3 separate regions of the Homo sapiens genome follow, and all the other regions are linked to region 3. The links come from fine-mapping of genetic effects on gene expression. A gene starts in region 3. Each other region holds a variant in brackets. All regions are shown on one strand. Distances are from middle to middle. Region 1 has its middle 8.9 kb from the start of DTX4. Region 2 overlaps PATL1 (PAT1 homolog 1, processing body mRNA decay factor). Region 3 holds the start of MPEG1 (macrophage expressed 1).

The links. PIP is the estimated chance that this variant, and not a neighbour inherited with it, causes the effect.
Region 1: its variant is fine-mapped to the expression of MPEG1 in whole blood (INTERVAL, PIP above 0.99).
Region 2: its variant is fine-mapped to the expression of MPEG1 in whole blood (INTERVAL, PIP above 0.99).

The regions. Positions count from the first base shown.
Region 1 is chr11:59,159,133-59,167,317 of GRCh38, reverse strand. No RefSeq gene overlaps it. Among named protein-coding and RNA genes, the nearest start is that of DTX4, 8.9 kb to the left of the region's middle. The variant AGAAG/G (reference allele first, on the strand shown) is at 4,643.
Region 2 is chr11:59,635,693-59,643,877 of GRCh38, reverse strand. It overlaps PATL1 (PAT1 homolog 1, processing body mRNA decay factor), which reads left to right. Exons shown (of 19, transcript NM_152716.3): 16 at 843-998; 17 at 4,495-4,586; 18 at 4,681-4,830; 19 at 5,467-7,162. The coding sequence ends at 5,488. Among named protein-coding and RNA genes, the nearest start is that of OSBP, 24 kb to the right of the region's middle. The variant T/C (reference allele first, on the strand shown) is at 3,377.
Region 3 is chr11:59,209,019-59,217,203 of GRCh38, reverse strand. MPEG1 (macrophage expressed 1) reads left to right here and starts at 4,277. Exons shown (of 1, transcript NM_001039396.2): 1 at 4,277-8,185. The coding sequence starts at 4,339. The coding sequence ends at 6,489. It also overlaps the pseudogene RN7SL42P. RefSeq lists an enhancer at 4,101-4,300.

The sequences.
Region 1 (8,185 bases), 50 kb after region 3:
TGTTCCATAGTATCCATGGACCACCTTACTGTTCATCCATGGAAGTTCATATAAGTTGTTTCTAGTTTGGGCTATTATGAATAAAGCTACTATGAACACTCTCATCCAGGTTTTTGTGTGAAGGTAAAGTATCCATTTCTCTGTGATAAATGCCTAGGAGTACAATGGCAAGGTCATAGGGTAGTTGCATGTTTAGCTTTTTTAACAAACTGCCAGTTTTCTAAAGTGGCTGCACCATTTTGAATTTTCACCAGCAATATACCCATGATCTGGTCACTACATCTTCACCATCATTTTTTGGTCAGTATATTTTATTTTAGCCATTTTGGTAAGTGTGTAGAGTTATTTCATTGTTTTTAACTTGTTTCCTTATTGACTAATAATGTTGAACATCTTTCCATGCGTTTATTTGCCATATATGCTCTTTGATATCTGTTCAGGTCTTTTGCTGGTTTCTGTTTTCTATTATTGAAATTAGAGAGTTCTTTTTATATTCTAAATATTGGGCTGGGCACAGTGGCTCAAGCTTGTAATCCTAGCACTTTGGGAAGCCCAGTCAGGAGTTCGATTGCCTGAGCTCAAGAGCTGGAGATCAGCATGGGCAACATGGGGAAACCCTGTCTCTACAAAAAATACAAAAATTAGCTGGCCGCGGTGGTGCAGGCTTGTGGTTTCACCTACTTGTGAGGCTGAGGTGGGAGGATCGCTTGAGTCTGGGAGGTTGAGGCTGCAGTGAGCTGTGATGGTGATGTTGCACTCCAGCCTGGGCAACAGAGTGAATCCTAGTCTCAAATAAATAAATAAATAAATACTCTTGGTGGATATATAGTTTGAAAATATTTTTTCTCAATCTGTAGCTTATGTTTTCCATGCTCTTCATAGCGTCTTTCACAAAACAAAAGTTTTTTAATTTGATAAAATACAACTTACCAAATTTTTTTTTTCTAAATGGCTTCTGTTTCCCATGTTAATTTTAAGAACTCTTTGGCTAGTCCTAAGATTTGAATATTTTTTTCCTCTGTTTTGTTCTAAAACTTTCATACTTTTACAACTTCCATGTAAATCTACAATCCATTCTGAGTTAAATTTTTGTGTATGGAGTGAGGTTTGAGTGTCTTTTTATGTGTTTATTTGCCTATAGATGTATTGTCCTAGCGCTATTTGTTGAAAAGGCTTTTCTTCCTCCTTTGAATTGCTTTTGAGTCTTTGTAAAAAAATCAGTCTGGCATATTTGTGTAGATCTATTTCTGGTTTCTCTAGTCTGTTCCATTGACCTATATGTCTGTCCCTTCACCACTACTGCACAATGTTGATTAATAAGCTGTATTAATAAGCTATGTAATGTCTTATTGTAAATTGGGTAGATTGATTCATCTCACTTTATTCTTCTTCAAAATTGTTTAGGCTATTCTGGATCCTTTGATTTCCACATAAATACTAGAATAATCTTGTCTATATGTGCAAAAATTCTTGCTGGGATTTTGATAGGAATTGCATTGAAGCTGTATATCAATTTGAGGAGAATTGACATATTTTTACTGTGTTAAGTCTTCCAATCCATAAACACGATATGGATATGCTTCTCTATTTATTTAGATCTTCTTTGTTTTATGTGTTTTCTAGTTTTCAGCATACCTATCCAGTTCATTTTTTGCTCAATGTACACTTAAGTAGTTCATTTTGTTTCAGAGTGATTATATTAATAAATGGCATTCTATTTTTAATTTTGGTTCCACGTACTTATTGCTGGTACATATAAATACAATGGATTTTTGTATGTTTATTTAGTATCTTGTAAGCTTGCTAAGGAGTCCAAATCTGGGTCTAAGAGTTCTTTTATAGATTCCTTAGGAGTTTACATGTCATCTCCAAATAGGGACAATTTTGTTTCTTCATTTCTGATCCTTATGCTTTTCTTTTCTTTTCTTTTCTTTCTTTCTTTTTTTTTTTGAGACGGAGTCTTGCTCTGTCGCCCAGGCTGGAGTGCAGTGACGCAATCTCGGCTCACTGCAAGCTCCGCCTCCCAGGTTCACGCCATTCCCCTGCCTCAGCCTCCCGAGTACCTGGGACTACAGGCGCCCGCCACCACGCCTGGCTAATTTTTTGTATTTTTAGTAGAGACGGGGTTTCACTGGGTTAGCCAGAATGGTCTTGATCTCCTGACCTCGTGATCCGCCCGCCTTGGCCTCCCAAAGTGCTGGGATTACAGGCGTGAGCCACCGCGCCCGGCCGATCCTTATGTTTTTCATTTCCTTTTCTTGCCTTACTTAGAATTGTATTACCTGGAATTTCCAGTACTATGTTTAATACAGTTGTGAGAATAGACATTCTTGCCTTGTTTCTGATCTTAGATAACATCTAGTTTTTCACTAAGAACTGTGATAATAGCTGTAGGTGTTCATTTTAGATGTTCTTTATCAAGTTGAGGAAGTTTTCCTCTATCCTTATTTTTCTGAGAGTTTTTTAAATCATGAACAGATATTGAGTTTTATTAAATGCTTTTTTGGTATCAATTGATATGATCATGAGATTTTGTTTCTTCAGACTGCTAATATGGTGGATTGCATTGATTTTCAAATACTTAATGAGATGTGCATCCCTGGAATAAACCCCACTTTGTCATAGTGTATAATTATTATAAAATATTGCTATATTTCATTTGTTAAAGTTTTCAGGGGGCTGGGCATGGTGGTGCATACCTGTAGTCCAACTTCAGAGGTTAAGGCAAAAGGGTACCTTGAGCCCAGGATTTCAAGGTTACAGTGAGCTATGATGAGCCACTGCACTCCAGCCTGGGTGACAGAGGAAGAGCCTGTCTCAAAAAAAAAAAAAAAAAAAAAAATTGGCGGTGGTCTATATTTATAAAGAATCTTGGTGTATAGTTTTCTTTTCTCTTTCTTTTGTTAAATTAAGCTTAGCCTAAAGCTACCTCCTTACATACTTTAAGTTTAACCTAAACGTTTCTCAATACATAGTGAACTATAACTTAACCGAATGTGGAAACAGACTAGCCTACTTTTGTAGCAACTACCTGAGTCTCAGCCAATCACAGAAGCAATACTTCAACCACTCACAGGAGGCCAACTGTTCCAATAGTGTTCAAACAAGGTAAATGCTGCGCTGTAGCCAAGGCAACTGTTTCTTTTCTTTTCTTTTTTCTTCTTTTTTAAACTTTTTATTTCAAAATACTTTCTAAAATTGTATTTTAAAATTGACACATGATTGTACATATTTATGGGGTACATAGTGATGTTTTGATACATATAATATATAGTGATCAGATCAGGGTAACTAGCATATACGTCCACCTCAAACATTTATCATTTCTTTTTGTTGGGAACATTTAATATCCTCCTAGATATTTGAGTTGCTCTCTTATTGTATAGAAACAAGGCTGCTGTTTCTATACCTCACTTTCATTTTCTCTAAGCTACTTTCCTTTCTCTGTCCATAAATTATCTTCAACTAAGTGGCAGTGTTGGAGTGTCTCCCAATCTATTCTAGTTCTGTGGAGTTGCCTGATTCTCGAATTGTTCTTTGCTCTGTAAAATTCTGTTAAATTAAATTTGTCTAAAGTTTGTCTTTTAATACTTTCATTTTGGGAGGGGTGGTATCAGAATAATACTAGCTTCATAAAAATGAATTGGGAAGTTTTCTACCCTCTTCTATTTTCTGAAACAGACTGTATAGAATTGGTGTTAATTCTTCTTTAAAAGTTTGATAGAATTGTCCAGTAAAAGCATCTAGCCCTGGAGATGTCTTTTTCAGAAGATTTTAAATTACAAATTCAATTTCCTTAATAGAGCGCTATTCAAATTACCTATTTCATATCGGATGAGTTGTGGTCATTTGTATTTTTTAAGGGATTGGTCCATTTTATACAAGTTGTCAAATTTATGTGTGGAGTTGTTCATAATGTGTGCTTATTATACTTTTGATATCTTCAAGGGCTGTGGTGATAACATGGCTTCATTCTTGATGTTATTGGCAATTTGGTTTTCTCCCCCCACCTCTCCCTTTCTCCTTCCCTCCTTCCCTGCCAGTCTCGCTAAGCAGTATGTCAATTTCATGTATTTTTTTTTTCAAAAGAACCAACTCATTGTTTATTTTGGCTCTTATCTTTATTATTGTCTTAATTTGGCTACCTATTTTGCTCTTTTTTTAGATTATTATAGTAAAAGCTGATATTATTGGTTTGAGGCTTTTCCTCTTTCCTAATGTAAGCATTTAGTGCTATTGATTTTCCTCTCACCATGGCTTTGGCTGTGTCCCACAAATTTTGAGACGCTTTATTTTCACCTTTATTCAGTTCAATGTCTTTTTAAATTTCTCCTGAGTCTTCTTCTTTAACCTACGCACTATCTGAGGTGGGAGGATCATGAGGTCAGGAGATCGAGACCATCCTGGCTAACAAGGTGAAACCCCGTCTCTACTAAAAATACAAAAAAAAAAATTAGCTGTGCGTGGTGGCGGGAGCCTGTAGTCCCAGCTCCTTGGGAGGCTGAGGCAGGAGAATGGCATGAACCCGGGAGGCAGAGCTTGCAGTGAGGCGAGATCGCACCACTGCACTCCAGCCAGGGTGACAGAGTGAGACTCCGTCTCAAAAAAAAAAAAAAAAAGAAAGAAAGAAAGAAAGAAAGAA[AGAAG/G]TGAGAAGTGTGCTGTTTGGCTTTCAAATGTTTGGAGGTTTTTCTGTTATTGTTAGGTTATTGATTCCTAGTTTGATCCCATTGTAGCCCAGAGGACACACTCAATATGATTTCAACTCTTTCAAATTTGTTGAGGTTTGTGTCATGGCCTAGGATATGATCTATCTTTGTATTCACTCTGTGGGTGCTTGAAAAGAATGTGTACTCTACTGTTGGATGAAGTGTTCTATAAATGACCAGTAGACCCTGTTGGTTTATCATGTTGTTCCGTTCTTCCATATCCAGGCTGATTTTCTGTATAGTTGTTCTATAAGTTGTTGAGAGAGGAGGATGTTGAGTTCTCTAACTATAATTGTGGATTTGCCTATTATCCTTTTAGTTATATCAGGATTTGCTTAACATATTTTGTCACTTTGTTGTTTTGTGCTTGCACACCTGTAATTACTGTGTCTTTTAGGTGATCAATCCTTTTATTATTATATAATAGCACTCTCTGTCTCTGGTAATTTTCTCTGATCTGAAGTCTATTTTATTTAATATTTATAGTGGTGGACTTGGACCACACATTATCAGCACCACTTCTGGAGGATCTGGAGACTAAGGTCAGCCATATCTACATGAATAGCCCCCAGTAAAAACCCTGACACTGAAGCTCAGGTGAGCTTCCCTGGCTGATGATACTTCATGTGTATTGTCACACATTGTGGCTGGGAGAAATAGCACTATCTATACAACTCCACTGGGAAGAGACAGCTGGGGCATAAATCTGAAAAGACTGAACAAGCTCTATATGAAGAAAACTACAAAATTCCGATAAATGAAATCAAAGAATGACTAAATACATGGAGAGATAGTCAATGTACATTTATAGAAAGGCTCAGTATTGTCAAGTTATCAGTTCTTCCCAACTTGTTCTACAGATTCATTGCAAATGCAATCAAAATCTCAGCAAGTTAGTTTGGATGGGAAGGAGGGAAATTGCTCAAATAAATGGTATTTTTTCACTTTCAAATTCCAGTTGGTACAATGCACAGCTGGAATTTGAGAGATAATTCTCTCAAATAAATAAAATAATAAATAAAGGGAGAATTTATTTTATTTGGAATTTCGGAGAGAATTCTCATTTTTCTCACAGCAATTGATTTAGGGGATGTAACTGATTTTTACTCTCTCCCTTCTCTGGTGTCCATTCTATATCAGCCTCAGCCTCAGGTAATGCTTCTCCTAGTATTGGTGTCTTACCTGGTGGCAGGACCCAAATCTTCATTTCTGAGGGGTCTGAGACCCTGGCTGCCATGCTATTTTCAAGCTATGGTGGTGTAATTGTCTGTTTACTATCAAATTTGGTCAAGTAGGGTCCAAATGGATCATGTGAGTGGCAAACACATTTCTCCCTGCCCTTACTGTGTCACATAAGCACTTCCTCCTCCTGAAGAACTGGGTTAATTGCCTGAGCCCAGGCAATGACTCTTCTTGCATACTGGTCTCTGGATACAAAGTCTTTGCAGTGACAGGCAGAAGCTATAGCTTAGAGTTCAGCAGGACTCTTTCCGTGTCCCCTGGCAGAAGTGTGCCCCCACAGGGAATCAGGACCTTTCATCCTACAGAGCCCTGACCTGGGGGCTGGCAGGGGCATGGATGGCAGAGGGAGAGACAGGAAGCACAAATTCCCTAAGTGTGTTATTAGGGATACAGATAAAGCTAAGCAGGGCCCTTCCTGCCTCTACCCTTTGTTTCCCAGGCTGATGTATAGGCCTACATAGGTCAGATACCTGACATGGGTCTCGCTGGACTAAAATCAAGGTATCATTATGGCTCAGTTCTCTTCTGGAAGGTTTAGAAGAGAATCTGTTTCCTTGCCTTTTCTTTCTCCTAGAGCTCACTCACATTTCTTGGTTCATGACCCCTTCCCCCATCTTCAAAGCCAGCAGTGTTGCATCTCTCTGTGCCTCTTTCATGGTCACGTTTCCCTCTGAATCTCTGATTCTCCCTTTTCTCACCTTTAAGAATCATCGTGCTTACATCAGGCTATCCAGATATCCAAGATAACCTTGCTATCTTAAACTTAGATGATTAGCGGTCTTAATTCCCTTTTCCCATATAACCTACATGGTCATATTCCAGGGATTATGGTGTGAACATCTTTGGGAGCCTGCTCCACACATTTGTCATACAACTCACTTGTGGTCTCCTTTCCTGCTCATGCTGCACAATGCTAGGCATTCCAACTCCATCATACGAGAGACTGGTTTTTTGGCCACACTTGACATTATGACTTGATAATTCTGATAGAACTCACTAAAAAATGGCGAGATTTGGATGCAGAGTCACTTAATGTCTCATGGTTAGGTGCTCCCTACCAGGGCCCAAAAGGTATATTCAAACAGTATATAATTCAAAAGGAGTTGTTATTCAAAAGATATATAACTATCCACTGCAAAAAACACGGGCTTTCTCCAGAACCCCAAAACTTTGCCTTGTAATTTTCCCACTTGGGCTTGCTATCAACTCCACATGGTATCTTTTCCCACATCTGATACCAGAGGGTCAGCCAGGGCACATGGTCCAAGCAGCTGTACTGTTTTCACTATAGCTTGGATCTTCTGGGACCCTTTCCTAATCCAGACCCCACTCAAGGCTGGCAGCCTATAGCATCCCCTGTAAATTGGCTGAAACAGTATACCCATGCATGGAATATGCTACCTTCAGAACCCAAAGAGATTTATCAGGCAGTGTACTTTCTTTTTCTTCATGGGGTATGCAAGATTCAATAATTCATCCTTTTCTTTGGATGGGTGGTCTTAGCATGCCCCTGATTTAGGGGGCCTCTGATTCCTCACGGGGTTTATTTCCTGTCACCTGAAATGCATGTGTACCGGCACCTCCAAGGTAGTTGATTACTTCTTGCCATCTGGCCTAATTAGCATGTTAACATCGATATAGTAGACAGGTGTGATGGTCTGAAGGAAGTACAAGTAGTCCAAATCTTTTCTATCTATATTATAACAGAAGGAACACTATATCTAATATAGTCCTGGGGCAAAAATACACATGTACACTGTTGTCTATTCCATGTGAGTGGAACTATTTATGATCCCTTTTTCTGATAGAGATAGAAGAGAATGCATTAATTCAACTGATGGCCACATACCATGTACCTGATTAAATGTGCATTTGCTCTAGCAAAGATTCCACATCTGGCACAGTGGCTGCAACTGGGCCCACCAGTTGGTTGATTTTGTGATAGTGAATGGTCATTCTCCACAACTGATGAACTAAATGCATACATGACAGGGAGCATCATTTCTGTATCCTTTAGATCCTTAAGGATGGCACTAAGTTTCATGCCTTGTGCCCATTGGAGTCATCCAGTGAAAAGTGGAGCAGAGTGCCCTAAAGACTTACAGTGCTGAGGAGATAAAAATTGGAGTTCTGAATTCGATAACGCAGGAAGTGGGAGGACACTAGTAAACATCCCAAGGCCTCAGCTGGGGCCCTTCCAGGCTACACTCTAGAAGTGAAGCCAACCAGAGGTAGAC
Region 2 (8,185 bases), 430 kb before region 3:
CTGGAATTCAACAGCCTTGGGTTCTGGCTCTAGCTGTGGCTATGTAACTCCAAACACTGAGTTTCTGATCACTTTATAGATTCTCTAAAAATCTATAAAAATTGGCTAATTATTTCTTTTCTTCCTCATTGAGCTTTTATAAAAATAAAAGAAAATACATTAAATCTGAAAACACTTCTTTTGAGACAGGGTGGGTCTCACCCTGTCACCCAAGCCGGAATGTGGTTGTGCAATCATAGTTCAATGTAACCTTGAACTCTTAGACTCAAGCAAACCTACCACCTCAGCCTATTGAGTAGCTGGGGACTACAGGTGAAACTTTTTTATTTGTTGTAGAGATGAGGTCTCACTACGTTGTCCAGACTAGTCTTGAACTCCTGGCCTGAAGTGATCTTCTGCTTGGCCTTTAACCTATCTTGGAGTGCTTCTCACAGTATATTGAAATGGCCAATTAACCCATATCTTCTCCGCTATACTTTAGATCCCTGAGGTTCTGTGTCCTTTTGCCATTTGTTTTTAGCCCATGGTGTAGTGTAAGCATTTAAATATTTATGGAATTAGTTAAAATATTGATGTTTTAGCATAACTCTTGGTATGTATTTGGGAGTGATTTTTTTTTACACCTTTGGTTCACACAAGTCATGGTGTTTCCAATGCAAATTGAGATGAAAAAGTTCTCAGTAGATAGCTTAGAATTCATTATTAAGACTCTAGTCATATCTGCCAGACTTGTGCCTTAAGTGGTTGAATATACAAATGAACATCCTTCCATCCATGCCCCTGGTGGGGGGTAACTGAAGTAACACGTGCCAGGATATAATGCTTTTATTTGTTTTTTGTAGGTGCTGCCATGCTTACTGAGTCCCTTCTCTCTCCTTCTCTATCATCTTCCATCAGTGAGTATCACCAGCCTTTTGCGACAGCTAATGAACCTACCTCAAAGTGCAGCTACACCAGCACTCTCCAATCCTCACCTCACTGCTGTGCTCCAGAACAAGGTGATCTTGCCCTTTTAACTCCTTGAACTTTGTGAAATGTCTTAATTTGCGTTATAGATTAAAATAATGGCTGCTGTATCTCTAGCAACTTGGGAAAAAGGCTTCTTTCAGTCAAGAGTTACATTAAGCTCCTAGTAACCGGCTAGAAATAACAGTGTTTTCAACAAAATGGGATTTTATGTGTCTAGTGTGAAATAAATTTGATTTAGTAGCTCGACAGAGTCATCAGGGATCCAGGCTTTTTCACTTTTTTTCCTCTGCCATTCTTACCAGTGGCTTCCATGTTCATTATTCCTCATGGTCCAAGATGGCTGTGGAATTCATGATTCAGCTTTACATCAAGAAGGACAGGTGGATGTGGAGGGCAAAAAGATGTGGACCAGCTGTCCATCTTCCTTATTGAGACCTTTTCCAGGAGTTCTAACCAGAAACTTCTACTTACTGTTAATAGCCAGGACATTGTCACATGGCCACACCTAAGTGCAGGGAAGGCTGGAAAATATCTTTTAGTTTATGCCATTGTCATGACACATAAGAGTTCTGATAATGGGTAGGAAGGCATATTAGGCAATTAGCAGTCTCTGTCATAACACTATGAATAGTAGAATCATCCATTTCATATTTTATTTGCATCAAGTTTAAAGATTCAGAGATTCCTAGGGGAAACATAATATGAAATAAAGAATATGAATTTTTAGTCCTTCCCTGCTACTGTCTAGCTTTGTGACCTTGGACAGATGATATCACATTGCTGAATCAGTTTCCTGGTCTATAAGATGGAGGTGATGATGTAGACTTCATAGAGTTGTCCTGGTACTTAAATGAGATAACAGTTGTAAGTGGTTCGATATAATGCCTGGTACATAGTAGTTACTCATTAAGGGCCATTCTATGTACAGTAGAGATGAAAAAGTGGTCTCAAGGCCTCTTGCTCCTTTGCACCAGAAAACCTACCAAAGCATGACTCTAAAGGTCAGTGTATCAGAGGAAGAAGAGGTGACAGTGCCTCTGGGGTTCTGGAGTGATCCGGAATGTGCCTTTCTGTTATTTGGTCTCTTAGTTTTAATTTTAGTAAAGGCAGTAGTATTTTTTTTCTGAGAATAACATGAAAAGGGATTTTTTTTTTTTAAATCAGGGTCTTCTCTGTCACCCAGGCCAGAGTGCAGTGGCAAGATCTCGGCTCACTGCAACCTCTGCCTCCTGGGCTCAAGCCATCCTCCCACCTCAGCCTCCCAAGTAGATGGGACTACAGGCACATGCCACCACGCACAACTAATTTGTGTATTTTTTGTAGAGGTGGGGTTTCGCCATGTTGTCCAGGCTGGTCTCAAACTCCTGAGCTCAAGCTATCAGCCTGCCTCGACCTCCCAAAGTGTTGGGATTACAGGTGTGAGCTACTGCAACCGGCCATGAAGGGAAATTTTGTGGAAAAGTGAGTGAGTCTAGAAAGTTGGAATGGAATCCCAAAGTACTGCCAGCCTTCCTTTTATGATCCATTTATAGGTATGAGTCATACATTTAACCTAAACCTTCTTGTCCCTATTTGTATTTTCTTTTTTGAGACAGGATCTCACTCTGTCACCCAGGCTTCAGTGCAGTGGCACAGTCACAGCTCATTGCAGCCTCAACTTTCTGTACTCAAAGCGATCCTCCCACCTCAGCCTCTTGAGTAGCATGTGCCACCATGCCTGATTGACTTTTTTTTTTTTGAGACAGAGCCTTGCTCTGTCACTCATGCTGCAGTGCAATGGCGATATCTTGTCTCACTGCAACCCCTGCCTCCCAGGTTCAAGCAGTTCTCCTGCGTCAGCCCCCAAGTAGCTGGGATTACAGGTGCCCGCCACCATACCAGGCTAATGTTTGTGTTTTTAGCAGAGACAGGGTTTTGCCATGTTGGCCAGGCTGGTCCGGGGCTCCTGACCTCACGTGATCCACCTGCCTCAGCCTCCCAAAGTGCTGGGATTACAGGTGTGAGCCACCACACCCAGCCTCCGATTGATTTTTATATTTTTTGCAGAAACAGGGTCTCACTATGTTGCTCTGGCTGGTCTCGAACTCCTGGACTCAAGCAGTACTGCCTCCACCTCCCAAAGTGCTGGAATTACAGGCATGAGCCACCATGCCCATCCCCAGCCCCCTGTTCATTTTTTTTTTTCTTTTGAGATAGAGTCTTGCTCTGTCACCCAGGCTGGAGTGCAGTGGCGCGATCGCAGCTCACTGCAAGCTCCGCCTCCTGGGTTCAAGCCATTCTCCTGCCTCAGCCTCCCGAGTAGCTGGGACTACAGGCACCCGCCACCACGCCTGGCTAATTTTTTGTATTTTTTAGTAGAGGCAGGGTTTCACCGTGTTAGCCAGGATGATCTCGATCTCCTGACCTC[T/C]TGATCCACCCGCCTTGGCCTCCCAAAGTGCTGGGATTACATGCATGAGCCACCACGCCCGTCCCATATTTTAATCCTATGCCCCAAAGACTACATTTCCTGATTTTACTGTCCACTAAATAAAACACATTTTTATATGTTACTTTTTTTTTTTTTTTTGGAGATGGAGTTTCACTCGTGTTGCCCAGGCTGGAGCGCAATGGTGCGATCTTGGCTCACTGCAACCTCCAGCTCCCGGGTTCCAACAATTCTCCTGCCTCAGCCTCCCAAGTAGCTGGGATTACAGGCATGTGCCACCGTGCCTGGCTAATTTTCTATTTTTAGTAGAGACGGAGTTTCACCATTTTGATCAGGCTGGTCTCAAACTCCTGACCTCAGGTCATCCACCCACCTTGGCCTCCCATAGTGCTGGGATTACAGGCATGAGCCACCACACCTGACCATTTTTATATATTGCATACTCTAAAGCATGTTGCTGAATTTTAATTATAGATACGGTGTATACATCTGTTTACCCTTTCTCTCTTTTTATTTTTTAGATTTTTATTAACATTCTGTCTAAGACTTTGTATTTCCAGATAGAGATGTGCTTTTTAATGGAAAGTTTCTCTTTATACCATGTTTATTTCAGTTGTGTTTATTTGTATATTTTCCTACAGTTTACACCTTGTTTCTTAATTCAAAATATCTTACTGTAATGCTTTTTTCTTATTTTTTCCTGATTTTTAATTTCTGTACCAAAATTGGTCTTCATTTACTTTCTTTTTTAGCCTATTTCTGTTCTCATAAATAGGAGAAAAGTCAAATTCTACATTATCCATGGCAAGGAAAAACCATCTTTTAACCTCAGCATGGGGAACAGAGAGGCGTGTTGGACACCATGACTTTCCGTTTCTGTTGGCTGCGCCTGGTCACTGCTATGGCAGAATAAAGCCTGGAGAGAGACATAGCCTTTCAACTCATGCTTGTCTGATCTTTACCTGGTTTTACAGAAAAGCACAGTAGTGAGGTTATTTTGATTTAGAGCTGTTCCCCATCTGATGCCAGGATCCCTTCAACAGTGGTGGAGGAGGTTTAGACACAGTGTTGAGTTTGATTCCCTCTGTCTTTTCTCGTAGTTTGGCCTGTCACTGCTCCTCATCCTCCTGAGCCGTGGTGAAGACCTACAGAGTTCAGACCCTGCTACAGAATCAACACAAAATAATCAGTGGTCAGTGTGGACTGTTTCTTCTCTTATTTTAAGTTCTTTGAGGTAATCTTTTAAATTTTTTTCTCCTGATATTATTATGGGTCTTCCCTGTCAGGACGGAGGTGATGTTCATGGCAACACGAGAACTTCTGCGGATTCCCCAAGCAGCCCTGGCCAAGCCAATCTCTATACCTACAAACCTAGTGTCCCTCTTTTCTCGCTATGTTGACCGGCAGAAACTGAACTTGCTGGAGACAAAACTGCAGTAAGTTTGAAACAGGAGAGTTTCACATCTCACTAAAGTTGGGACTTTAGAAGTTATGGTTGGGAGGCTGGGTACGGTGGCTCACACCTGTAATCCCAGCATTTTAGGACACCCAGGAGGGTGGATCACTTGAGGCCAGGAGTTCCAGACCAGCCTGACCAAAATGGTGAAACCCTGTCTCTACTAAAAAAATACGAAAATTAGCCAAGTGCGGTGGTGCATGCCTGTAATCCCAGCTATTCGGTAGGCTGAGGTATGAAAATCATTTAAACCCGGGAGACAGAGATTGCAGTGAGCTGAGATCACGCCACTGCACTCCAGCCTGGGTGACAGAGCAAGACCCTGTCTCAAAAAAAATAAATAAAAAGAAGTTATGATTGGGGTGGAGGGGGGAATAAAACTGAATTTGGTGGAAGAGATTGACTTTTTATTAACTATTTGTGTATCTGTTAGATATAAAACACTGAACTGGGTACAACAGGGCCTTCATAAAAGATGACCAAATGCTAAGGGTAGAGAAATAATCTCGGGTATTTTGTTATGAGAAGTCTTACAAAGATGTAACTGTAATATGAAAGATTGCCTTCTGTTTTAACTCATTTATACAATTTTCCTTTCTCTCCTTTGTACTCCTAGGCTAGTTCAGGGGATACGATAAAAGATCTCCAAATGTGTCCTGTACCTCCTTTTGGCTGCCACCTGCACTGCTGCCATCACCAATGGAGTGTTTTTAATGAGGGAAGGAAGGTAGCTTTTTCCCCAAAGCAAAGTCTTGTGGGATCGATTCCTGTTTACAGGGGTTGTCTCTCTAAATGTCAGATATTTCCCCACTGCTCTATGAAATTTGGCTGGGTGATACTTCTGCTGGTTTCTTTACCTTCTGTGTTACAGTTCTGCATGTCCTACTTTTACTCAGTTCTGTTTTGCATTTTCTTTGCCCTAGAGACACAAGTGTAATCTCTCCCTTTATCCCTCCACTACTCCACCTCAGAGTAGATTGTAGCCTGCCAAAGGATTCCTTCCCTCATCCTATTGAAGTTGTTTTTTCATTGCCCCATATTAATATGACTATAGAAGAGCCAATTAAGTAGAAATCAAGATATACACACACACATAGATACACACACACACACCCCATACATGTATTTATGTGGTCTTCAGAGGGTCCTTAAAGAATGAATTTTAGATTGAAAAATATTTAGTTGTCTCATTACCTCTTCTAAACACAAACCAGCTGATGTATTTTAATCTGTTTCTGTTCTATCTTGTAATTAATTTGGTGGGTTCTACTTGTTTTAACATAAATAAAGAGTATGCAGCACGTTTAATAAAATCAGAACTCTTAATTGGCTTATGCCCAGGTCTAGGCTGAGAAGTCCTTTTTCTTCTTCCCACCTTTATTTCCTTAGTTTCTGTCCACCTTAATCGAAACAACACATGGTTATGTCTTTTTCCTGCTACAACTACAGGGTACTTGAGCCTTTCCCCTCAAGTGCATTCGAAGTCACCCAGGATGATCCTCACTAGTAGCCTGCTTTGGCAGTGTGGCTTTTTGCACACTTGCCCTGTCTTCCTGAGACTACTTCAGTAAGCCATGCTTCCTTCTTCCCCACTTTTATTTGGTGTCATGAATAGAAACTTCCAAATGTAACCATGGAAGCTAAGTTTGGCCTGCTTTGCTTTTTAGTCTCCACACCATGGGCAGAACTGCTGTCTTTACTACTTCATCTCACCCAAGTCCCGTTCCCAGGCAGCCAGGGGCCTGGGTTTGAATAATTGCAGGGCCAGCCTGCCATGATCTTTCTCACTTACTCCTCTCCCATTCAGCAATCAACCAGACTAAGGAGTTTTGATCCCTAGTGATTACAGCCCTGAAGAAAATTAAATCTGAATTAATTTTACATGGCCTTCGTGATCTTTCTGCTGTTCTTACTTTTTCGAATGTAGTTGGGGGGTGGGAGGGACAGGTTATGGTATTTAAAGAGAATAAACATTTTGCACATACATGTATTGTACAACAGTAAGATCCTCTGTTAAAACCAGCTGTCCTGTTCTCCATCTCCATTTCTTCCCATGCTGTAACCCCAGGCTCCACCAGCTGTTCCCCAGTGATGTTACCTAGCTTCCCTCTACCGTTGTCTACTGACCATTTCCACTACATGCCTTTCCTACCTTCCCTTCACAACCAATCAAGTGAATACTTGATTATTATCTCTTCCTTACTGTGCTTTATCTTTTTTGTTTGGATTGGTTCTAATTAATGAAAATAAAAGTTTCTAAATTTACATTTTTATAGGGTATTGTAAATAAAAACAAATTGTATACTTAAAAATGAGTGCCTGCATTTCTACTTTGTTACCTCTGAATATGATTTTTATGTTTCTAGCATATTTAGATAGACTGTCAACTTCTTGATGTAGGGGATTAAAGATATTATTACCTATATTTTTACCTTTTTAATTTTGTTGCAAAGAAGACAAATATTTTTATATAATAACTTGTCTTTAAAAATCTAAGATGCTTTCAGTTTCTCCTCCCCCCATTTTAACTGTACGACAAAATTATAAATTGTAGTAGATAAACTGTAGTTTGTCTTCTCCATCCTGCCCATCTCTAGGCATTGAGGAATCTGTCCCCCTTTAAGAGACTCATGTAGCCCAATGAGGCATTCAGCTGCCTTCATGGATAGTATTTACTTAGTTCTGAGCATATTGTATTTCAAAACTCATCTCTTCAAAGGAGATGGGAAAAGGTTGGTCATTCTTTATAGTGAATTTATTTTTATTATTTCAGACTTGAGTATCATTTTTACTCTAAAATGCTCAAGATAAAAGATTCAGCAAACACATAGAAAGGGGCAAAAAAAAGTGGGGTTTTGTTTTCAAGACAGGGCCTGTGTCACTCAGGCTGGAGTGTAGTGGCACAGTAGCACAATCACCACTCACTGCAGCCTCGATCTCCCAGGCTCAAGTGATCCACCTCAGCCTCCCGAGTAACTGGGACTACAGGTGTGCACCACCACACCTGGGTAATTTTTATACTTTTTGTAGAGTCGGGATCTCCCTATGTTGCCCAGGCTGGTCTTGAACTCCCAGGCTCAAGTGATCTTCCCACCTTGGCCCCCCAAAATGCTGGGAGTACAGGTGTGAATCACTGCACTCAGCCTGAAGGTTTTCTTCTTTTTCTGAGATGAGTTTCTCTGTCACCCAGGTTACAGTGCAGTGACACAATCATGGCTCACTGCAGCCTCTACCTCCCAGGCTCAAGCAGTTCTCCCACCTCAGCCTCCCAAGTAGCTGGGAATACTACAGGCGGGTGCCATCATGCCCAGCTAAATTTTTTGATTTTTAGTAGA
Region 3 (8,185 bases):
GAATTGTCCCAGCAAATGCAACTAGACTTTCCTCCCCATTTTAGACCACAGGTGAAATGCAGAAGTAGGAAACACCTGGATTAGTTCCAAGCCCACACAGAAGCGAACCTCAGATATGAATCACGGTTTGGCGCTGAATGAGATGGTGTCAGAAGGTTGCACGGGATCAAACAGAGAAAGAAAGCAGATGTGGGACTTCCTTCTTGCCTCTTTTTGGAGGAAGTGAAATCGCCGTTCAGCAACGCAGATGCAAAGTTTTTGTAGACAAGATGCCTCTTTCTTTTAGAGATCAGTGTTAGCCACAGGCCATTACTCCTCAAGTGTGGCCATCTGGGGAGGTTATGTGACTGCATATGCATTCCAGTACAAGAAAAAGCAAAGGAAATTTCTGGTGAACAGAATAAAACAGAAAAGTTGTGGGTAAAATGCACTGGTCACCACTTCCTCATATGTGACTGTTATGAGCAGTTCTTCTGCTCCTGGTATGTAAAATTAAGTTAAGCCAAATTTCCCATCATTTGCACTTCTCCTTTCACTGTTTCCCAGAGAACTGGAAAGAGAACTTCCTTGAGCACAGCAGTCACATAATCCATAGGCTTTGGGTCATTTCAGGAATATAAAAATTCCAGAACTAAGTTTTTTTGTTTGTTTGTTTGTTTGTGTTTTTGACAGTCTCACTCTGTCTCGCAGGCTGGAGTGCAGTGGCACGATCTCGGCTCACTGCAGCCTCGAACTCTTGGGTTCAAGCAATTCTCCTGCCTCAGCCTCCCAAGTAGCTGGGATTACAGTTGTGTGTCACCACTACATCTGGCTAATTTTTTTGTATTTTTAGTAGAGATGTGGTTTCTCCATGTTGGCCAGGCTGGTCTTGAACTCCCGGCCTCAAGTGATCCATCCACCTCGGATTCCCAAAGTGCTGGGATTACAGGCATGAGCCACCCTGCCTGGCCTGTTTCTTTTGTTTTTTTTTTACATGGTTGTGCATTGGTTATTTTCCTGAGCACAAAAGTGATGATTACCCAATACCCATCAGTGTTTGGTACTTAATAGGCTCTGAATACAAATTTCTCGAGTTAATAAATACATGCTCATTGTTGAAAACTCAAAAAACACAGAAAAGAGGAAAAAATTAAAATAATTTAGAAAAACCTCTCAACCAGATGTAATTACTGTCTATGCATTGGCGTACATCCCTCTAGTTATGTACATAGTTGGGGTCATGCTGAATGTTTATCATTCTTTTTTTTCATAACATTATTGTCAGAGATATTTGAACCAGAATAACTCCATCTCGAATAGGGGCTGGGTAAAAGAAGGCTGGGCTGCATTCCCAGAGGGTTAAGTATTCTAAGTCATGGGATGAGATAGAAGATTGGCATAAGATACAGATACAGATCACAAAGATCTTTCTGATAAAAGAGCATGCAGTAAAGAAGGCAGCCAAAACCCACCAAAACTAAGATGGCGACAAGAGTGAACTCTGGTCATCCTCATTGTTCATTATACACTAATTGTAGTGCATTCGCATGCTAAAAGATGTTTCCACCAGTGCCATGACTGCCAATTTCCAGAAGTTACCCTGTATAGTCTAAAAAGGAGAGGAACCCTTAGTTCTGGGAATTGCCCACCTCTTTCCCAGAAAACTCATGATTAATCCACCCCTTGTTTAGCATATAATTAAGAAATAATGATAAGTATCCTTAATCAAGCAGCACATACTTCTGCTCTGCCTATGGAGTAGCCATTCTTTTGTTTCTTTACTTCTCTAATAAACTTACTTTCACCTTACTCTGTGGACTTGCCCTGGTCCTTCTTGCACAAAGTCCAAGAACTCTCTCTTGAGGTCTGCATTGGGAACCCTTTCCAGTAACATTATGGCATAAGAATTTCTCATGTTATTAAAATAGTTTTAAATAATTGTGATGGCTATACAATATTTTGTCTTATGGGTACAATGTAATTTTACCGTTGTTGGCTCTTTCTGCTATTTTCAATTTTTTTTTCCTATGATAAAATGAAGACAAAGTCTATAGAATAAAAAATACAGTGACTAGACGTCTGGAGACATAGGAACACCTGAATATAGAATTGTCTGTATTAACCTTGCTTGTATTCTCATTTCAGGAGAGTGAGCTCTCAACAGGGTCTACTAAAGAGAAAGCAGAGGGTAACAAATTGTCAGCTTGTCTCCAAAGCAGTGTGAGAGTATTCTAATTTTGATGAACCATCCCAGAAATAGTTTGAAGAGAAGTATGTAGGTATTTCAACAGACTTATTGGAAGTACTCAAGGGCATTCAACTCTCATTTTTCTAATTCTGGGATCATGCTGCTGAGGTATAAATTTATGGCTAACTGATTTATAAATTAACTAGAACATCCTGTGCAAAGATTTGGTTCTTTAGCCAAATACAGACTAGGCACTGGTTCATAAATTAATCCCTCTTAGGTGGCTGGTGTCACTTCCCAGAAGCATGATAACTGTGGCACAAATAGAACCAGAATGGCCAGGTGTGGTGGTGCATGACTGCAGTCCCAGATTCCTGGGAAGCTGATGTGGGAGGATTGCTTGAATCCATGAGTTCTGGGCTGTAGTGTGCTATGCCAGTTGGGTGTCTGCACTAAGCTCAGCATCAATATGGTGGCCTCCTTGGAGCAAATCACCAGGTTGCCTAAGGAGGGCTAAACGGGTCCAGGTTGGAAATGGAGCAGGTCAAAACTCCTATGCTGATTAGTAGTGGGACCATGCCTGTGAATAGCTACTGCACTCAAGCCTGGGCAATAAGCAAGACCCTGTCTTGGAAAAAAAAATATACCCGGAATGCAGTATTTCTAGATTTATAGAACACCATCATGGTTTTGATAATAACTGGTGAAGCCCAGCCTGGGAAGCAAGATAACTAGCCTCATTCTTTCTAAAAACACTTCTTTGCTGCATTAATAACCAACAGAGGAATTCAACTCCTTGGAACCTTCCTTCCAGGATGCATACAGGTGATGGTGTAGTGATACCTGTGAATTGCAACATGACTTTTTCAGTCTCAGTACTGTATCTAGTTCATGGTATAATCTTGGGAATGTTAAGGATGCAACTGGGAGCTTCACTAAGTCCTCTGGATTCCCTGGCTACCACTAAGCATACTAAGACATAGCCTAATTGTCCCAAAGAATTAACAGAGTTGGGTTTCAATCAAACCTGTCACCATTGTTTTAAATTATGGGCTCTAATAGAGCTGGCATTGGAACTTGAAAAGAAACTCATGTAATTATATTCTTCTAATGATATAGCAAATGAATTTTTGCTTTTAGAAAAAATATTGGGTAGTGAAGAGCCACATTCTTTTTTATCCACCTAAACTGATTACACACACTTAGCAATGGAACAAAAAATTAAAGGTATAACAGGTACCAACTTCATACAAAATGCACACACACAGAGGATATATAAATGTGTGTACACATACACATATGTTCCTTGGCCCCTGTCTGCTGTTGATAAATCAAAATCTAGATAATAGTGTGGTTTTGTCTTGAACATTTCTATCTGAATGAAAACAACACAGTGTAGGAGTTCCTTGCCCTCGCTTTGAATGCTTAGGACAATGCAAATTGGGGTTTCCCAGCATATTGCAACCGAATCCTCTTCAGGCCCTGTCAGCTGTGCTCCAGACAATGCCATCCCCAAAGACAGAATTGCTATGGTTCATAACAGTGAAACCCACAGGACAAGTGTCCAAGAGTTTCACTCCTTTCTTTTGTGGAAACAGCCTCCACCCTCAGGCAAAGAGGAAACCCAGGGTTGGCCTTGACTAACAGCTTGCATAGGTATGGTGGAGCCAGGGTGTTTCAGTAAGGGTGGTGTGGTCATTTGCCTCTGCATTTATAGTAAAAGAAAACTGATAATGGAGTCCCAAGAGACAGCAGTCAGGGAAAATATGAAACATCAAGTCCAAGAGAATGAGCAAAAAGCAAAGCCAAACTTTCTGGTGGAGGAAGCAGTAGGGTGTGGGGTCGGGATTTTTTTCTAAGTGCACACCCCTGCAGCAGAGTAACCAGCCAGAGCTGGGGGAAAAATTAGGATAGCTACCTGTTAGGCATGTAGGGGTGTGTTTGCATGTTTAGTACGGCATAAATTCTTCAAAGACCTGATGGTCTTTAATATTCCAACCAACTCTCGTTTCCCCATTTTGTCATTAAATTAGCTTAAAGAGGAACTTGTAGCTTTTAGAGAACTCATGAGTTTTCCGCTTCATCATCTGCTTCTGTTTTCTCCATCTTAGTTTGCCCAAAGCTTGCTGGCCGCTGTGTAGGGCTGGTGAGTGGCTGGGGCTGTCTGAGCCATGAACAACTTCAGGGCCACCATCCTCTTCTGGGCAGCGGCAGCATGGGCTAAATCAGGCAAGCCTTCGGGAGAGATGGACGAAGTTGGAGTTCAAAAATGCAAGAATGCCTTGAAACTACCTGTCCTGGAAGTCCTACCTGGAGGGGGCTGGGACAATCTGCGGAATGTGGACATGGGACGAGTTATGGAATTGACTTACTCCAACTGCAGGACAACAGAGGATGGACAGTATATCATCCCTGATGAAATCTTCACCATTCCCCAGAAACAGAGCAACCTGGAGATGAACTCAGAAATCCTGGAATCCTGGGCAAATTACCAGAGTAGCACCTCCTACTCCATCAACACAGAACTCTCTCTTTTTTCCAAAGTCAATGGCAAGTTTTCCACTGAGTTCCAGAGGATGAAGACCCTCCAAGTGAAGGACCAAGCTATAACTACCCGAGTTCAGGTAAGAAACCTCGTCTACACAGTCAAAATCAACCCAACTTTAGAGCTAAGCTCAGGTTTTAGGAAGGAACTCCTTGACATCTCTGACCGTCTAGAGAACAACCAGACGAGGATGGCCACCTACCTGGCAGAACTCCTGGTGCTCAACTATGGCACCCACGTCACCACCAGTGTCGACGCTGGGGCTGCTCTTATTCAGGAGGACCACCTCAGGGCCTCCTTCCTCCAAGACAGCCAGAGCAGTCGTAGTGCCGTGACCGCCTCTGCTGGACTTGCCTTTCAAAACACCGTGAACTTCAAATTTGAGGAAAACTATACCTCGCAGAATGTCCTCACCAAGAGCTACCTCTCAAACCGAACCAACTCCAGGGTGCAGAGCATTGGAGGGGTTCCTTTTTACCCAGGCATCACCCTCCAGGCCTGGCAGCAGGGTATCACCAACCACCTGGTGGCCATCGACCGCTCTGGCCTGCCGCTGCATTTCTTCATCAACCCCAACATGCTACCTGACTTGCCAGGCCCCCTGGTGAAGAAGGTGTCAAAGACAGTGGAAACTGCTGTGAAGCGCTATTATACATTCAACACCTACCCTGGCTGCACAGATCTCAATTCTCCCAACTTCAATTTTCAGGCCAACACGGATGATGGCTCCTGCGAGGGGAAAATGACCAACTTCTCTTTCGGTGGGGTTTATCAGGAATGCACTCAGCTCTCAGGGAATAGGGATGTCCTCCTCTGCCAAAAGTTGGAGCAGAAGAATCCACTCACTGGTGATTTCTCCTGCCCCTCTGGCTACTCCCCGGTGCACCTGTTATCCCAGATCCACGAGGAGGGTTACAACCACCTGGAGTGTCATCGAAAGTGCACTCTCCTCGTCTTCTGCAAGACCGTGTGTGAAGATGTGTTCCAGGTGGCAAAAGCTGAATTTAGGGCTTTTTGGTGTGTGGCCAGCAGCCAAGTACCTGAAAACTCAGGACTGCTTTTTGGGGGCCTCTTCAGCAGCAAGAGCATAAACCCCATGACAAATGCACAGTCATGCCCAGCCGGCTACTTTCCACTGAGACTCTTTGAAAACCTCAAGGTATGTGTTTCTCAGGACTATGAGTTGGGAAGCAGGTTTGCGGTCCCCTTTGGCGGGTTCTTTAGCTGCACAGTTGGGAACCCCCTGGTAGATCCTGCTATATCCAGAGATTTAGGGGCACCGTCTCTGAAAAAGTGCCCCGGGGGCTTCAGCCAGCACCCAGCCCTCATCAGCGATGGATGCCAAGTGTCCTATTGCGTCAAATCCGGGCTCTTCACAGGAGGGTCCCTGCCCCCTGCCAGGCTCCCACCTTTCACCCGGCCACCCCTCATGAGTCAGGCTGCCACCAATACTGTCATAGTGACCAATTCTGAGAATGCGAGATCCTGGATTAAAGACTCCCAGACCCACCAGTGGAGGCTGGGAGAACCGATAGAGCTGCGGAGGGCCATGAATGTCATCCATGGGGATGGTGGTGGTCTGTCAGGAGGGGCTGCAGCTGGGGTCACAGTGGGGGTCACCACCATTCTGGCTGTTGTTATCACCTTGGCCATCTACGGCACCCGGAAGTTCAAGAAGAAAGCATATCAGGCAATTGAGGAAAGGCAGAGTTTGGTTCCAGGCACTGCAGCAACTGGAGACACCACTTACCAAGAGCAGGGGCAGAGTCCAGCTTAAATCTCTCCCCGAAAATGGTTTCTCTCATCTCCAGTGTGGTCATTGCTGACCACTCTGTTTTCCTAAGCATTGAAATGGCAAGTGCAACCAAAAGTAGGTATATTCGTGACTTCTTGTTTAGGTCTCTGGGCCAGGAAATTCATACTGTTACATGGATAAGGTTGGGATTGGGGAGAGGGAACAGTTGGGACTAGAAGCAAAAGTGATTCTGGGACTAAAATAGGAAGCAGATGTCCTTTCCCAATGTGTGTTGCTGTCTTCACCTGAATGCATTTGTGTAAAAATAGCGGAGGGACAATGTGAACATTTGTATTTGGAAGCTATGAATTTACTCTGAAGTTTGCAGTTGTTTCCAATTTGTGAGCTCTAAGAGTTTCTGCCTGTAAGAACTACTCTCCTTTTATTTTGATTTTTAAAAACCTGTCTGAATTTCACACTCTTAGAGCCTGGAAGAGCCCTGAAAAGACACAAGTCTTGCCTGGCTACTGCTTTTTAACTTTGAGGGCTCTATGTTGACAGACTGTTATCTCCTCTGGGTGACCTCAAACATCTGAAAAGAAAGATGTTGCCTGTGCCAATTCCACTTTTTCCAGCTGCCCCTTGATGAACACTCCCTTATACCAGACCACTCTTGGACTTCTGACTGGTGTCATCAAGTCCTCAGAAAATATTTTAAGTTATTTTAAGTTATTAAGGAAGGGATGATTTGGAGACAAGGAGTAATGAAAGATGGGTAAAAACTGGAAAAGATTCTGGTGCTAAGTACTACCCCTTCATCTTCCATGGATGGTCATTACCTTTCCTGTCCTCCTGTTATATGAACACACACACACACACACACACACACACACACACACACGCACACACATACCACATTTCAATAAGTCTTCATTGTTCTGGGTCCTTACCTTTCCTGTCCTCCTGTTATATGAACACACACACACACACACACACACACACACACGCACACCACATTTCAATGTCTGCATGGTTCTGGGGGTAACAAAGGCAAGAAGTTAAAGTAAGACCACATTTGAGTATTACTTACTCTGTAGAATCAAAACAGAGTAGTTAACACCAATTATGCAAACTACTTTTTTTTCCAGCAGAAAGGGAGCTGACATGATCAAATCCATGTTTTCAAATGAACTGAAAAAGGCATCCAGCACCACTTATAACACATTTATTTCAGTTCCAGGCTGACAGCCCTGGGGCATCTAGCAGGATGCATAATTGTCATCTGGTGAGAGTTGGGACTTTGCTCAATTTTAATACCAATCTCTCCTGATTGTAATTACCTCCACTACTTTCATGATCCCCCTACAATATTTTTTTAAATGATATATTTATTCACTGAATCAAATGTCATTAATGAGTTATCTTCTGTGGAGGATGACTGTTCTCTTTGTTAATGTTCACAATCAAGATCTTGGGCTGAGAAGAGGCCCTTCACCCAAGGAGTTTGAAGTATCACAGTGTGTGGGAAGGTGGGAACCAGGATACCCATTCATTTCCAACCGAGACACAGAGAAGTGAGTCACAGAATTTGAGCCCGCTCTCTTGACTGCCCAGCCAGAGACACTGATTTCTGTAACCTCTTCACTTGATCCTGCCTCTTAAGCATTAAAACATTCTCCTAAACCTCTGAGTGTTTTGTGGGTTCTGGGTGTTTTGTACATTTTAGCCAAGCTAACCA